Regions from separate parts of the Homo sapiens genome. Here region 2 is reported to be linked to region 1. Evidence: microRNA targets listed by miRTarBase, many of them from high-throughput screens and not tested one by one. Region 1 holds a microRNA gene; the other region holds the end of a gene's coding sequence.
Evidence for each region. The annotated mature microRNA hsa-miR-935 reads CCAGUUACCGCUUCCGCUACCGC and lies in region 1 at 1,993-2,015, shown strand. An mRNA with a match to its seed (bases 2 to 7 or 8) in the 3' UTR can be bound and repressed. Matches are read on the target gene's strand: a 7mer-m8 pairs with bases 2 to 8, a 7mer-A1 pairs with bases 2 to 7 and ends in A, and an 8mer does both.

Region 2: the mRNA of NOP2 is a reported target of hsa-miR-935. The part of its 3' UTR that is shown has no 7-base or 8-base seed match.

Annotation. Positions count from the first base shown.
Region 1 is chr19:53,980,370-53,988,225 of GRCh38, forward strand. It overlaps MIR935 (microRNA 935), which reads left to right and starts at 1,938; the gene lies at 1,938-2,028. It overlaps CACNG8 (calcium voltage-gated channel auxiliary subunit gamma 8), which reads left to right. Exons shown (of 4, transcript NM_031895.6): 4 at 1,711-7,856. The coding sequence ends at 2,480. RefSeq lists an enhancer at 1-146.
Region 2 is chr12:6,551,232-6,558,659 of GRCh38, reverse strand. It overlaps NOP2 (NOP2 nucleolar protein), which reads left to right. Exons shown (of 16, transcript NM_001258308.2): 16 at 1,018-1,789. The coding sequence ends at 1,667. It overlaps IFFO1 (intermediate filament family orphan 1), which reads left to right and starts at 2,618. Exons shown (of 10, transcript NM_001193457.2): 1 at 2,618-3,403. The coding sequence starts at 2,631. RefSeq lists silencers at 2,441-2,600, 2,651-2,890, 3,001-3,180 and enhancers at 3,641-4,141, 4,142-4,642, 6,274-6,791, 7,064-7,428.

The sequences.
Region 1 (7,856 bases):
TGAGGATAGAGAGGCGGGGCTGGGTCTTGGAGGGCGGGCCCAGGAGAGGTAGAAAGTGATCTGAGCGCCGATGAGGAGCCTGCTTTAAGGGGCGGGCCTTTGGAGACTTTGGTGGATCCAAGAGGGGGCTGGTCCTGGGAAACCGTCCAGGGCCGGGAAGTGGAAACTAAAGGGGCTGGGTAAGGGAGACTGAATCGGCCCTTGCCCGTGGCCATTTGGAGAAGGAGAGGCTAGAAAAGACGGGGCGATGCCTGGAAAAGCCAAAGGGGGAGGGGTTATGTCCTTAAGGGCACAGAGAATCAACCTGGCTGATTGAAGCAAGAGGCCGACCAAAGCCAGTCAGTACCTGGGATTGGCCGTCTCAAGAGCTAGGGCCTAGACGAGCAGAGAGCTAGGACTGGAACACTTAAGAGGCACGCAATTAAGGGGTAAGGCCCCCTTTCTACCCCGTATGAGTAGCATTGGGAAATTCCAGGGGCAGAGCTTTTTTGGAGGAGTAGAATACAGAGAAGAGGGAGGGCTTTGCATATTTGAAGAGCAGGGTGTGCTTTGGGGATGGGTCTAGATCTGCAAGGGGTGGGGCTTGGAGGATCTGAAAGGCCGGAGTAGCTGGACCTGAGACCGGCAAGGACCCGAGACCGGCAAGGACCCTGGCCAAGATCCGCACGGGGCGGGGTTTGGTAAGCTGGAGGTGGGGCCTAGAGTAGAAGGCGGGGCCTGCTTTATTAAAGGCAAATTTTTGACCAGTAGGGGAGGGCCTAGAATGGATACTCCGGCAGGAATTATATGAAGAGAGATTAGATAAGTGAAAGGCAGGGCCTGATCACAGCAGGATGACATCATTAACAGAGTTCAAAGGAGCAGAGGGATGAGGCTTGGGAAAAACCCAGGTTTATAACGTTAAGGGTGGAGGTAGACTAACTAGGGCAGGGCCTGGAAACTCATCTCATCAAAGGTGGGTTTTAGACCAGTCAGGGCAGGGCCTGGACTCGCTGGGAGTGGGGCTTAGGCCACCTAGGGGTGGGGCCTGGACCGCTTGGGGTGGAGTTACCACCAGCCAGGGTGGGGTTTAGACCAGCAGAGTTGGGACCTTAGCTAGAGGAGTGGGGTTTATGCCATGTGGGGGCAGCCCAGACCATCTGGGGGTGGGTCCTAGACCACCTGGGGCAGAGTTTAGACCAGCCAGGGCTGGGTTAGACCGGCAGAGGTGGGCCGTGGGCTATCTGGGGGCAGGACCTGGACCATCCAGGGCCGTGTCTGGACCATTCAGGGCAGGGCCTGGACCACCTGGGGGTGGAATTTAGACCATCTGAGGGGGTGCTTGAGCCTGCCTGGGCCAGGACCACGCATGATGCAGTCTGGACCATTGGCGGCCCTACACCACCTGGGGGATGGAGTTTCGACCAGCCGGGGTTGGATTAGACCAGCAGAGGTGAGGCCTGGGCCAGCTAAGAGTGGGCCGGAGCCCTCTGGGTTGGAGCTTAGACCAGCAGGGAAGCGCCTAGAGCATCGGGCGGGGAGTTGTGTTCACTTCTGGCAGGACTTGGGTCAGCCAGATCCAGGACGGGGGTCTAGACCACTCGGGGTGGGGCCTAGACCGCCTGGGGGTGGCGCCTGGGCCCGCTGGCGCAGGCGGGCAGGGGTCGGGGCCGGGGGCGGGGGCGGGGCCGGGGGTGGCCTCGAGGCTCCCGTCTGACCGTCCCCGCCCAGGCCTGAGCAACATCATCGGCGTGATCGTGTACATCTCCGCCAACGCGGGCGAGCCGGGCCCGAAGCGGGACGAGGAGAAGAAAAACCACTACTCGTACGGCTGGTCCTTCTACTTCGGCGGGCTGTCGTTCATCCTGGCCGAGGTGATAGGCGTGCTGGCCGTCAACATCTACATCGAGCGCAGCCGCGAGGCGCACTGCCAGTCTCGCTCGGACCTGCTCAAGGCCGGCGGGGGCGCGGGCGGCAGTGGCGGGAGCGGCCCCTCGGCCATCCTCCGTCTGCCCAGTTACCGCTTCCGCTACCGCCGCCGCTCCCGCTCTAGCTCCCGCTCCAGCGAGCCGTCGCCGTCGCGGGACGCGTCTCCCGGCGGCCCCGGGGGCCCGGGCTTTGCCTCCACGGACATCTCCATGTACACGCTCAGCCGCGACCCCTCCAAGGGCAGCGTGGCCGCGGGGCTGGCGGGGGCCGGCGGCGGCGGCGGCGGCGCCGTGGGGGCGTTCGGCGGCGCGGCCGGGGGCGCCGGGGGCGGCGGCGGAGGCGGCGGCGGGGCGGGTGCCGAGCGGGACCGCGGGGGGGCGTCCGGCTTCCTCACGCTGCACAACGCCTTCCCCAAGGAGGCGGGCGGCGGCGTCACGGTCACGGTCACCGGGCCGCCCGCCCCGCCCGCGCCCGCGCCACCCGCGCCCTCTGCGCCCGCCCCCGGGACCCTGGCCAAGGAGGCCGCCGCCTCCAACACCAACACGCTCAACAGGAAAACCACGCCTGTGTAGGGGCGCGGCGGGGGAGCCGAGGGGCGTGTCCGGGGCGCGTGCGCGGGCGCGCGTGCATCGAGGCTGCCGGGGTCGGGGGCGCCCCCGCTTTCCCCCGTGAGCGCGCTGGAGACTGCTGGGCCCGCCCCACGCCCACCCTCCCCGCCCCCCTCCCCCTCCGAAGCAGGGACCCCGAGGGAGGGGGCAGGGGAGGGAGGGGGCCGCTGTGAGGGAGCGTCGTGTTTTATTTTTTTGGGGGATCTATGGGGAGGGGGGAGGGCCATGGTGTTTTTTGCAGTTTCGAGATGTTTTCTTTTTCATGTTTTGCTGTGTGCATGGGGGGCGGGGCGGGGGGAGGGGAGGGAGGGACTCCCAGCCCAGCCCAACTCCTGGAGAGGGGCCCATAATACACGAATACATAGTTACACCCACAAACTATATATATGCCCTATATAAAGAGACACAGCGAAGGGATGCAGAAAGGCAGAAAGAAGGGTTGGACGCGGGCATTCATTCATTTTTTTCATTCATTATTCCACAAGGGCTTATTAAGCACCTACTGTGTACCAGGCACTGGTACATAAGAAGGCATTGGAGCAGGGGACACGAACGAGGCACAGAAAGGGCCTTCTCATTCATTCATTCATTACCGGCAATTTATTTGTGCGCCTTAAAAAGCTAGGCATTGTGCTCCGTGCTCAGCGTGCAGGAGGCAGGAAAACAGCCAGGGGCCCCGACGTCTCATAGAGTAAACATCTTGTGCATGAGACAGGCATTAATCGATCATGTACATACACAATAAATTACAGTTAGGCTATAGGAGAAACGAGATGCTATGAAATGCTCCATCAGGGGAGCCTAACCCAGTTGTGAGGAAGAGATTTCAGTGGACAGTGAAAGGATGAGAAGAAGCCAGCAGGGCGGAGCTGGGGCAGGAGTGTGGCAGGCAGAGCAGCACGTGCAAAGGCCCCGGGGCAGGAAGGAGCTTGCAGCGAGGGCTGAAGGGTAGTGAGGCAGGTGAGCGGGGATCAAGGTGAGGCCGGAGACACAGACAGGGCCAGATTGTGCAGGGGCTCGTAGGTCAGGAGTTCAGATTTTATTCTAGGAGTGGTGAGGGCCGTGGAACGGGTTTAAGCAGGACGCTAACGTGAATGGTGTACAAAGGGAAGACAGGAACTCGGAGGCAAGAGTAGGAGGCAGAGATGTGCTGAAATACAGCATCAAACATGGGCACGGGCCCTTGGAGCTCACACTCTTGTGGGAGGAAGCACGTAATTACACAGATGCTGAAGCATAGTCATGGTGTCTGGTGTGCAGGAGAAAGCCGTGGGGCTTAGAGACTCATGTGTCTGTCACTCGTTCATTCAGCCACTCACCCATTGCCATTTTTGGCCATCTGCTAAGGTACCAGGAAGTGTGTTAGGATCCAGATCCCCAGGGGTGAAACAGACTCTAGCCCTGCTCTCAAGCAGTTTATTGTCATCAAACACCGCCATCCAGGCAGGGCAATCGGTGCTGGAACCCGGACCACCGTGGGTACCGTGGCACACGGTGGACAGAGTGACCAACTGCCAGGAGTGAGCAGCACTTGGGGTAGGCTTCCTGGAGAATATGATGCCCATTCTGGGTCTTGAAGAAATGAGTGGGCATCTTCTGGTTGATGAAAGGCATGAGAAAGGCTTGTGGGGCCAAAGAACAACTTGGGTGAAAACGGGAGGAAGTGAACGAGCATGATGTATTGGGGTCAGTGCTAACAGTTCTGGGATGCTGATGTACAAGGTGGGGCTGGGAGATGAGGCCGGGAAAGTAGCCACAAGCTAGAGTGTAAAGGTACCAGGGTGGCCGGGCGCGGTGGCTCATGCCTGTAATCCCAGCGCTTTGGGAGGCTGAGGCTGGAGTATCACTTGAGCCCAGGAGTTTGAGACCAGCCTGGATAACATGGCGAAACCCTGTCTCTACAAAACATTAAAAAAAATTAGCCGGGCGTGGTGGAGCACACCTGTGGACACAGCTACTCAGGAGGCTGAGGGAGGAGGACCATTTGACTCCAAGAGTTCGAGGCTGCAGTGAGCTAGGATCGCGGCACTACACTCCAGCCTGAGCAACAGACTGAGATCCTGTCTCAGAAAAAAAGAGAAAAAGGTGCCTGAGTTCCAGGCAGAGGGACTGAGGCTCTTCTAAGGATGGTGAGAGAGGATGACAGCTGCGCGGGGGCAAGGGCTGTGCGGTGATTGGAGGGGATGGGTTTGAAGTTCACTGAGAAGGCAGAGGGGACAGCGCCCAGTAGGCTTCCCTTCCATATTTGCTCAGCAAGTGTTTCCTGAGGCCTCCCCCGAAGCCTTGTGCTGGGCGGTGCTGGGAGTGGAGAGGTGATTTTGATCTTGCCCTGCTCTCAAGGGGCTCCCAGTCTGGCGGGAAAACAGGCACAGACGCAGCTTGAGGAGGACGTGGCAGCGGTGGTGCCATGCTGCCAGGGGCTCTGCGTGCCCTTCTCTTGACGGAAGGGTACAGATCAGAGCTGGGTGTTCAGAATTTCTCTCCGAGGCCTGTGTGGAAGGACCAGGAAGAGAGAGACTGAAGGTCCCTAGGAAGAATTCTGCCAAGGCGGTTTCAGGAAGAGATGCTGGGAAATGTAGGAAAAGGAATACAAATCAGTGAGACGGAGAAGCGCTGAGTGAGAGAGACGGATACGTGGAGAGAAGAGGGATGCCGGAGCGGGTGTTAAAAGAGACAAATCTGGCCGGGTGCTGTGGCTCCTAATCCCAGCACTTTGGGAGACTGAGGCAGGCAGATTGAGCTCAGGAGTTCCAGACCAGCCAACATATTGAAATCTTGTCTCTACCAAAAATACAAAAATTAGCCGGGTGTGGTGGTGCACGCCTGTAGTCCCGGCTACTCAGGAGGCTGAGGTGAAAGGATCTCGCTTGGGCCTGGGAGGGTGAGGCTGCAGTGACCCGTGATGGCACCACTGCGCTCCAGCCTGGGCGAAAGAGCGAGACTCTGTCTCAAAAAAAAAAAAAAAATTGAGAGACAGCAAATATTTGCTGGAAGAGGGAGAGGGAACTGGTTAGGGGAGAATGGATTCTAGAGTCTGAAGGCCAAACAGAACGAGAGAGAGAGAGAGAGAGAGAGAAAGAATGAGGTTGAGGGTAGGCAGGAGGAAGAGCAAGATGGGGAGGGAGGGGGAGAGCAGGAGAGACCAAACTAGTAGAGTCACAGACAGAGAAAAAGTCAAAGACAGGAAGGTGATACAGAGGAGAGAGAAGAGGAAGAGGAGAGACTGACAGGTGCACAAATCAGAGAAGTCCCAGAGATAGCAGAAACACACACAGAGACAGAGATAGAGAGGGAGAGGTAAGCCGGAGACAGACTCAGAGATTCGCACAAAAAGCAACGTGGAGACTCAGAAGCAAGCGCAGCGTCAAGGAATGCTCCATTTCTGGTGTGTTGTTTTCCCAGTATTCAAGAAATATTTATTGAGTGCCAACCTGTTCTAGACCCAATCTCGGCCAGGGGATGTGGTGGCAAATAGACGGACAAGGGCCTGCTCTCCTGAAACACACTGGAGAGATAAACAATAAATAATATCATTTCAGTAACCAAAAAGTGCTTTAAAAATTAAGCTGAAGGCCGGGCGCAGTGGCTCATGCCTGTAATCCCAGCACTTTGGGAGGCCGAGGCTGGTGGATCACTTGAGGTCAGGAGTTCGAGACCAGCCTGGTCAACATGGTGAAACTTCATCTCTACCAATAAATAAATAAAGTAGCTGGGTGTGCTGGTGTGCCTGTAGTCCCAGCTACTTGGGAGGCTGAGAAAGAAGGATCACTTGAACCCAGGAGGCAGAGGTTGCAGTGAGCTGAGATCGCGCCACTGCACTCCAGCCTGGGCGACAGTGAGTGGTAACAGAATGACAGAGCAAGGATGACTTTAGATGAGGTCCTTGGAGTAGACCTTGTGGCAGAGGTCACAGAGATGTGGATTGTGAGTAGGAAAGAGAGGTGAGAAAGTCTGGGGGCCAGGCATTCCACCCACCAGAGGCAGCCCCAAAGCCCAGAAAAGTAGCAGGTCTTCGAGGAGGCCTGTGCGGTGAGCAGATCCACCATAGGACAGAGGCACAGGGTAGGGGCTGATCAGTTAGGGCCTTGGATCCTTGGGAAGAAATCTGAATTTTATTCTAGATCTGATGGGAAGTGCTTGGAGGGTTTTGAGCACAGGCATGCCATGATCATATTTTTATTTTCTTATTTATATTTATTTTGAAAAAGAGTCTTGCTCTGTCTCAGGCTGGAGTCCAGTGGGCTGATCTCGGCTCACTGCCAACCTCCGCCTCCCAAGTTCAAGTGATTCTCCTGCCTCAGCCTCCTGAGTAGCTGGGATTACAGGCATGTGCCACCACGCCTGGCTAATTTTTTTGTATTTTTAGTAAAGACGGGATTTCACCGTGTTGGCCAGGCCAATCTGAAATTCCTGGCTTCAAATGATCCACCTGCCTCGGCCTCCCAAAATGCTGGGATTACAGGAGTGAGCCACTGCGCCCGGCCTCATATTTTTATTTAAACAAGAACAGCAGAATTACATTGCTGTGCTGAGCATACGTAGACTTCAGGAGTCAAAGGGGAAGGAAGGAGGTAGCGGGCTGTTGCCTTCCTCTGGTTGCTGGAGGCCTGGACCAAGGTGGAGTTAGTGGGATGGAGGAAGTGGAAGAAGGCATGGGATTTTGGAGGCTAGAGCCTGCATTGGTGGTGAACTGGATGTCATAGAGGAGGGAAGGAAAAGGAACCAGGAAGAGAAGAACTCTCTGAATTGGGCACGCACATCTCTGATGGGCACCGATGAGGATTGTTACCAGGAACGAGGAGACTGGGATCAGGAAAGTGGCTTTGGGAGGGAGGAACCAAGGCTTCTCTTTTGGATGTGTCAAGATAGATCTGCCTTCGAGAAATCCGAGTTGTGGTATCAAATAGCCAGTTGGATATGTGAGACTGGAGTTTGGGGGAAAGAGAGGCCGTGGCTCAAAAACGTAAGTTTTGGAAACGTCAACATAAAGCCACAGGATTGGGTGACGTGGCCTAGCAGGGGGGTGGGGACAGAGAAGCGACCCTGGCCAGAGCCTTGGGGACATCTACATCTGGGGGAGAAGGGGATGTAGCAAAACGAGCTTAGGAGTGATCTCGAGGTAGGCTGAAACCAGGAGGGTTACAGAGGGCAAATGCACCTTTGTGTTTCAAGAAGGAGAGGAGACAGCCAGCTGTGCCAAGGGCTGCTGAGACTTGGACAAGGATGCAGAGAGCAGAGTGACCATTAGGTCTGATGACATGGACAGGGTTGGTGATCTTGATAAGATAAGATGTCAGTTCAGTGCAGTGGTGGGGACAGAAGCCCTGCTGGAGTGGAGGG
Region 2 (7,428 bases), not on the chromosome of region 1:
CCAGCCTGGGCAACACAGTGAGACTCTACCTCAAAAAAAAAAAAAAAAAGATAAATAAAGCCTAGTGCTTCAAATTCATTTAGAAGACCCTGCGAGGCCGGGCGTGGTGGCTCGCGCCTGTAACCCCAGCACTTTGGGTGGCTGAGGCAGGTGGATCACCTGAGGTCAGGAGTTCAAGACCAGCTGGTCAACATGGTGAAACCTCATCTCTACTAAAAATACAAAAATTAGCCGGACATGGTGGCGCACGGTTGTGATTGTCCGGAGGCTGAGGCAGGAGAATTGCTTGAACCCAGGAGGCAGAGGTTGCAGTGAGCCGAGATCACACCACTGCACTCCAGCCTGGGTGACAGAGTGAGATTCCATCTCAAAAAAAGAAAAAAAAAACCCCAAAACCCTGAGAATCACCTCTTCCTTACAGCATCTTGTTACTTCCTGTCCTCAAGAGGGCGCAGCTTCCTGTAGAAACCTTTTGGCCCAAGGATAGGCAGTGATTTTTTTTTTTTTTTTTTTTTTTTTGAGACGGTGTCTTGCTTTGTCGCTCAGGCTGGACTGCAGTGGTGCAATCTCAGCTCATTGCAACCTCCACCTTCCAGGTTCAAGCGATTCTTGTGCCTCAGACTCCCAAGTAGCTAGGATTACAGGTGTGTACCACCATCCCTGGCTAATTTTTGTATTTTTAGTAGAGATGGTTTCACCATGTGGGCTAGGCTGGTCTTGAACTCCTGGCCTCAAGCAATCCACTTGCCTTGGCCTCCCAAAGTGCTGGAATTACAGGTGTGAGCCACCACGCCTGGCCTATAGGCAGTGATCTTTTAATACAAGGTTCAACTAGGACTTGAGTAAAGGCCAAGTTATATTAAGTAATGGGAATTTAGGTAATCTGCTCTTAGGCACTGACCTAATTGTGTGGAGCTCCTGCCCAGGAAATGGCAATTCTCATATTTTAATATGAGAATATTAAAATATGGTGATAAGGCCCATTTTCTGACACCATCTGTTTAATTTTAACCCCAGGAAATTCTGAAACAGCCACACCTACAAATGTAGACTTGCCTCAGGTCATCCCCAAGTCTGAGAACAGCAGCCAGCCAGCCAAGAAAGCCAAGGGGGCTGCAAAGACAAAGCAGCAGCTGCAGAAACAGCAACATCCCAAGAAGGCCTCCTTCCAGAAGCTGAATGGCATCTCCAAAGGGGCAGACTCAGAATTGTCCACTGTACCTTCTGTCACAAAGACCCAAGCTTCCTCCAGCTTCCAGGATAGCAGTCAGCCAGCTGGAAAAGCCGAAGGGATCAGGGAGCCAAAGGTGACTGGGAAGCTAAAGCAACGATCACCTAAATTACAGTCCTCCAAGAAAGTTGCTTTCCTCAGGCAGAATGCCCCTCCCAAGGGCACAGACACACAAACACCGGCTGTGTTATCCCCATCCAAGACTCAGGCCACCCTGAAACCTAAGGACCATCATCAGCCCCTTGGAAGGGCCAAGGGGGTTGAGAAGCAGCAGTTGCCAGAGCAGCCTTTTGAGAAAGCTGCCTTCCAGAAACAGAATGATACCCCCAAGGGGCCTCAGCCTCCCACTGTGTCTCCCATCCGTTCCAGCCGCCCCCCACCAGCAAAGAGGAAGAAATCTCAGTCCAGGGGCAACAGCCAGCTGCTGCTATCTTAGATGGTTGAAAACTAGACGGGTGGCTCACTGCCATTGTCACCAGGTTGGAACTCTTGCCTCTGTGAGGATGCCTTCTCTACTGTGCATACCCATGAAATTTAATACACATTTTAAAACCTCTGGCCACTGAGTATTTTTGAGGGAACTGGGTGCTGCCTTTGCCGCTTTAAGGGTAAAGATGGGAGGTGGGACTGGGATCTTCTGAGGAGAGGGAATGGTTGGGTGCTACTGAGAAATAAGGTCAGTTTTAGGCTCCTGCATCCTTGGGTTTTCCCAGGAAGGGAAAGCCCTGGAGTCAGAGCTAGGGGTGATTGAACTCCGGGGAGAGGAGGGCAATAGAAGTGTAGGGGAAGGCGGGGCACACTAGCTCATGCCTGTAATCCCAGCACTTTCTGGGAGGCCAAGGCGGGTGGATCACCTGAGGTCAGGTGTTCGAGACCAGCCTGGCTAACATGGCGAAACCTCGTCTCTACTAAAAATACAAAAAATCAGCCGGGTGTGGTGGCGGGTGCCTGTAATCCCAGCTACTCGGGAGACTGAAGCAGGAGAATCGCTTGAACCTGGGAGGCTGAGGTTGCAGTGAGCCAAGATCGCGCCACTGCACTCCAGCCCGGGCGACAGTGAGACTCGGTCTCAAAAAAAAAAAAAGTCGTGTAGGGGAGATGGGCTTGCCACCAGAACCCATGGGGTACTGGAGGTCCTGGGCTTTACGCCACCCCGGCTGGAGTCCAGGCGGTGGCTCCCCTCATCACAGGGCTCGGCCTCAGACCCGGAAAGGTCCAGGGTCCGGCCTCCAATTGGAGCCTGTCATTGGCTTCCCCTCGGCCCGCCCCCTGACCTCTGCCCCGCTGCCGAGCCGCCTGATTGGTCGGCTCTGTCCCGCCGGCGCCGCATTGGCTCTTCTGGCTCGCCTTCCATCCCTGCTCCTGCACCGGTCTGCATCTCCCAGCAGAAGGCGCAGCCATGAATCCGTTATTCGGCCCCAACCTCTTCCTCCTGCAGCAGGAGCAGCAGGGCCTGGCCGGGCCACTGGGGGACTCACTGGGAGGCGACCACTTCGCCGGGGGAGGAGACTTGCCCCCGGCGCCTCTCTCGCCGGCCGGCCCTGCTGCCTACTCGCCGCCCGGGCCGGGCCCGGCCCCGCCTGCCGCCATGGCCCTCCGCAATGACCTGGGCTCCAACATCAACGTGCTCAAGACCCTGAACCTCCGGTTCCGCTGCTTCCTGGCCAAGGTGCATGAGCTGGAGCGCCGGAACCGGCTGTTGGAGAAGCAACTGCAGCAAGCGCTGGAGGAGGGTAAGCAGGGCCGGCGGGGCCTGGGTCGTCGCGACCAGGCAGTGCAGACCGGCTTCGTCAGCCCCATCCGGCCCCTGGGGCTGCAGCTGGGCGCCCGGCCGGCCGCTGTCTGCAGCCCTTCGGCGCGCGTGCTGGGCTCGCCCGCGCGCTCCCCGGCCGGCCCCCTCGCGCCCTCCGCGGCCAGCCTCTCGTCGTCCTCCACCTCCACCTCCACCACCTATTCCTCGTCGGCCCGCTTCATGCCCGGCACCATCTGGTCGTTCTCGCACGCCCGCCGGCTCGGGCCGGGACTGGAGCCCACTCTGGTGCAAGGGCCTGGCTTGTCGTGGGTGCACCCGGATGGGGTGGGCGTCCAGATCGACACCATCACGCCCGAGATCCGCGCTCTCTACAACGTGCTGGCCAAAGTGAAGCGGGAGCGGGACGAGTACAAGCGGAGGTAGGGATTGGGAAAGGGGGACAGGTCTCTCTGTGTCATACCACTCACAACGGGCCGCGAGTTGGTGTGGGTTCCGAAGAATCAGGGGTGAAAAGAATGAGAGTAAAGTTTGTGCTGTGTAATGAGGAGCTTGGAAGCAATTGGATGCAGGGAGACTAGAATCCGCAGAGAATGCAGAAGCCCTGCTCGTGACAGGAAGAAGGACGCTGGGAGCGGAACACGGGGGGATTCCTACTTTTCCGGCTTGTCTCTGCCATCCAGGCTTAACTGCGGGTTTTGTGCGGTGTGAAAGGGACTGGGGCTCTGCCCTACCGGTCTCAGCCCTGGGGCAGGTTAGGGATATAAACTTCAAAAGTAGGAGGCAAGGATATAGCGTAAATTTGGGAGACTAAATTGAGTGAAACTGGAAGGGGCTGGTGAGGGAGGGGCTGTACCTTGCAACGAGTGATTCTTTCACACCCCAAGGTTTCCCAAAGAATATTGATGGAAACCAGGTACCTGCTGTGGTTTCATAGGAAAAGCTCCGGGACCTCAAGCCATTGCTTGAGTAGGTCAACAAACTGGGAAAAGAAAGAGTGAAGGGAATTCACTAGGGTGAGGGTGGAGAGCAGGGCTGACAGGGGAATCTTGGCAGTATAAAGCGCCAGTGGGGAGGGAGAGTGGAGAGCCAGCAGGGGACTGAGCAGGGAGAAGCTGGGATATGGGCCCTCCCTAGGACCGCGAGGCCGCGGGGCGGGCCCGGTGCATTCTGTGGATGAAGATTTGGCTGTCTGAGAGGAGCCCGGCCCCAAGGGGCAAGGGAAAGGGATGTGATGCCAGGAGTGCTGGCTGTATACCAAGTGGATTCCTTAGATGGCTGATAACCAAGCCGATAGGACAGGAGTGAGAGCAGAGGTAGTGTCTTGCAGACTCCAACCCAAGCCTTGAGGAGGGAGCGGGTGACTGACAGGCTTTGGTTTGGCGGCCTCCCCTCTCATCTCAGCTATTATGACCCCTTGTGGGCGGGCCTGGGAACTACCTATGCAGCCCAGTGTGGCGGAGATTCAGCACTGGGTGAGGATTGGCCGAATGTTCTAGGAAATGACCGCTGGGTCTAGGGGCGACCTTCAGGGATCTCCACCCTGCTGGAGTTTACCAGATCACAGATCAGCAGGCTTTCTTTTTTTTTTTTTCCCATAAATGATAATATTTTATTATAGAAAAAGCATCCCAAATACAGGATTTCGTAAACACTGGTAGGTGAACAAGTGCAATTTTAGAAGTAAATGCAAAGTAAAGAGGCAAAACCTACAAGCATTTTGCCTTCAGAAGAAGATGTAGTGTTCTCCTGCACTAGTGATCCCACCCAGAACACAAATGTGGCTCTGTCTCCCGTGAAAGCATCAGATTTGCTTTCTGAGCTCAGTATGCCCATTTCAATAATTGCAAAGTGATGGCAAGAAGTGGCGTTGAACACATGACTACAGACCCTTGACTTAAAATATTGAGACAGGGACTTGCTCTGTCATCCGGGCTGGAGTGCAGTAGCGTCATCACAGCTCACTGCAGCCTCATCCTCCTGGGCTCAAGCAATCATCCTGCCTCAGCCTCTTGAGTAGCTGGGACTACAGGTGTGCACTACCATGTCCATGCCTGGCTATTTTTTTTTTTTCTTTTTGCGTTGTCCAGGCCAGTCTCAAACTCCTGACCTGATCAGCAGGCTTTCTGAGCTTGAGTCCTGTCCTCGTGCTGGCTTCCTTAGTTGTGGTCCATGTTATGTGTCCTTGGGAGTTTCAGTTGTCCTGAAATCATCGTTCTGCCACCCAGAACCAGCCTGCTCTGCCCCTGCAGGAGTTAACTACGCGCTCAGCAGTGGCACAGGCACAGTTCTGGAATACATCCATAACCACAGGAACAACTGCTGTTCTCAGGAGCATTTTTTTTTTAAACTGAAGGAGCGTTTGTCCTTGGTCCAGCTGTCCAGGACAGGAAGGAGTTATTCCTTGGGGACTGATTAGCTCATCGCTCTGCAGCACGCTGCTGTGTAGAGAGCCTTAGCTGGATTCGGATGGTGCGTGATACTGGCAGTGACTCTTCTTCCTCCCTAGATTCCCTGCCCTCATTCTGGTCTCTTTATAGCAACACTGTAACTCCTGTCTTCTGCCTGGAAGGCCTGGGATGGCTTGAGCGCTACACTGGGAGGTAGCTAAAGGCCTCCTGCGTTCTATTTTCAGCTCCCCTGCCTTGTGCGTGACCTTTTTTTGAGCCCCCATTTTCCCAACATAGGAATGGTCCCTGCTTTCTCTCTTCAACCCAGGGATACAGTTTTTTGGAAGAGAGATATTTGGTCCATGCAGAACACATGGATATCGCTCTCAAATTCTGCCCATGTTAAGGGAACCTTATAAGTGAGACCAGATGGAAATGGAGGTGAAAATGAACCTGTCTGTGTGAAGTCTGGCCAAAGAACAAATAGAACTGTAGTGGGCTTCCAGATGATTCATTTGTAGATTTTTTTTACCCTGTAAGATTTCCTTAGGCTTAACCTTTAGCTATAACTGCCTTACTTAAGTTTCTTCCAGGCTCTGTTGAGCTCACTGTCAGATAGCCCCTCCTGCCCTCTTTCACACATCTTGTCCAGGGTTAGCGTGCCCTTGACAGGCTTACTGTCTCCCTCCAGGGACTCGTGGGCTCCCGGCGCATGAGGGCACCACAGTTCATGCCTTCACATCATAGATGAAGAAACCAAGACCCAGAAAAGATAAGGGTCTTAGCTAAGAAAACATAATCTGATGCGACTGGTTCCCTTAGTGGCCTGACTGTATGCATGAGAATGCCAGGGAGGAGGGGAGAAGCACCTACGGGACACACAGGGAAGGGGGCTGGGAGCCAGGAAGGCTGGGAGCTGGGCTGTGTGGGGAGCCAGCAGGGTGGTGGCTGGGCTGGCTGCCTCCTCCTGCTCTGCCCAGCAGGGAGGGGCAGTCGAGGTGATGTGGAGGAGTTATTATTAGGAATACTGCAGTGCGGCTGTGAATGAGGAGATGGGACCCAGAGGCTGACACAGGAAGGAAGATGGAGGGAAGGGGAAGAAAGGGCTTCACCCAAGGCTTCAGAAGCTGCCCACTCAGATTTTAATTTTCTTGCTGTCTTCTTGGCCCCTTCCTAACCACCTTTCTTGTGTTGAAGTTTCTCTCTTGGTGCAGTTCCCCTCCCTTCTCGGGTTGACAGAAGTGATGAGCTCACAGGAACAGGATTTGAGATGTGCTGCTACGCCAGCTAGACTGCAGGGCCCTGGAATGCCGGGCGGGTCCTAAGCAGCACGTTGCCCTGGCTTCCATCTCTGTGATGGAATAGAATATGCACTGCCTGCCATGGCTGATGAGACATGACAAAGCTGGCTCTGGGAAGCATGCCCTACCTAGGACCCTGCCCTGTGGCCCAGGGTGTCGTCCGGCCCACTTGCAGTCTTAATCTCTGAATTCTGGGCCCTGGAACAGGCTGTGTCTAGTTCTCATTTGCCGTACTCACCGGGCCCCTTTACATACTCTACTTTCTCTTTCCCTCTGGGTTTGAGTGCTAGTAACCCCAGGCTCGTGTGTCCACTGCTGTCATGCTGCTGTGGGACTTCCGGCCTCTGAGCCAGTCTGGTCACCTCTCTGTGACTCCCTTAGAGGAGGCTCTGGGTGGGTAGTTTCTGGAGCTAGTGGGGAAGGACTTTGAGTGTCTCCTACCAGGCTCTTGACCCACTCTGTTGATACACTATGTGTCCTGCAGATGCTTTTACAGGGTTAAATGATACCACAAGAGGCAGGGCAGCGGGCTCGACGAGCTCTGTTCTGGTGCGGGCAGGAGGCGGGAGCCCGGATCTGTGCGACTGAAGGTGGGAGACTGGGCCGGGTGGACCTGGTGGTCTGGTGTGGGCAGGAGGTGGGCAATGAGGCCAGCCGGACAGCTGGCTGAGCTGGGGCCTGAGCAGGGATGGGCATCACGGAGGACCGGAGCCTCAGCACTTGCCCAAACAGAGCTCCTGGTGCACAGCCCGGAGG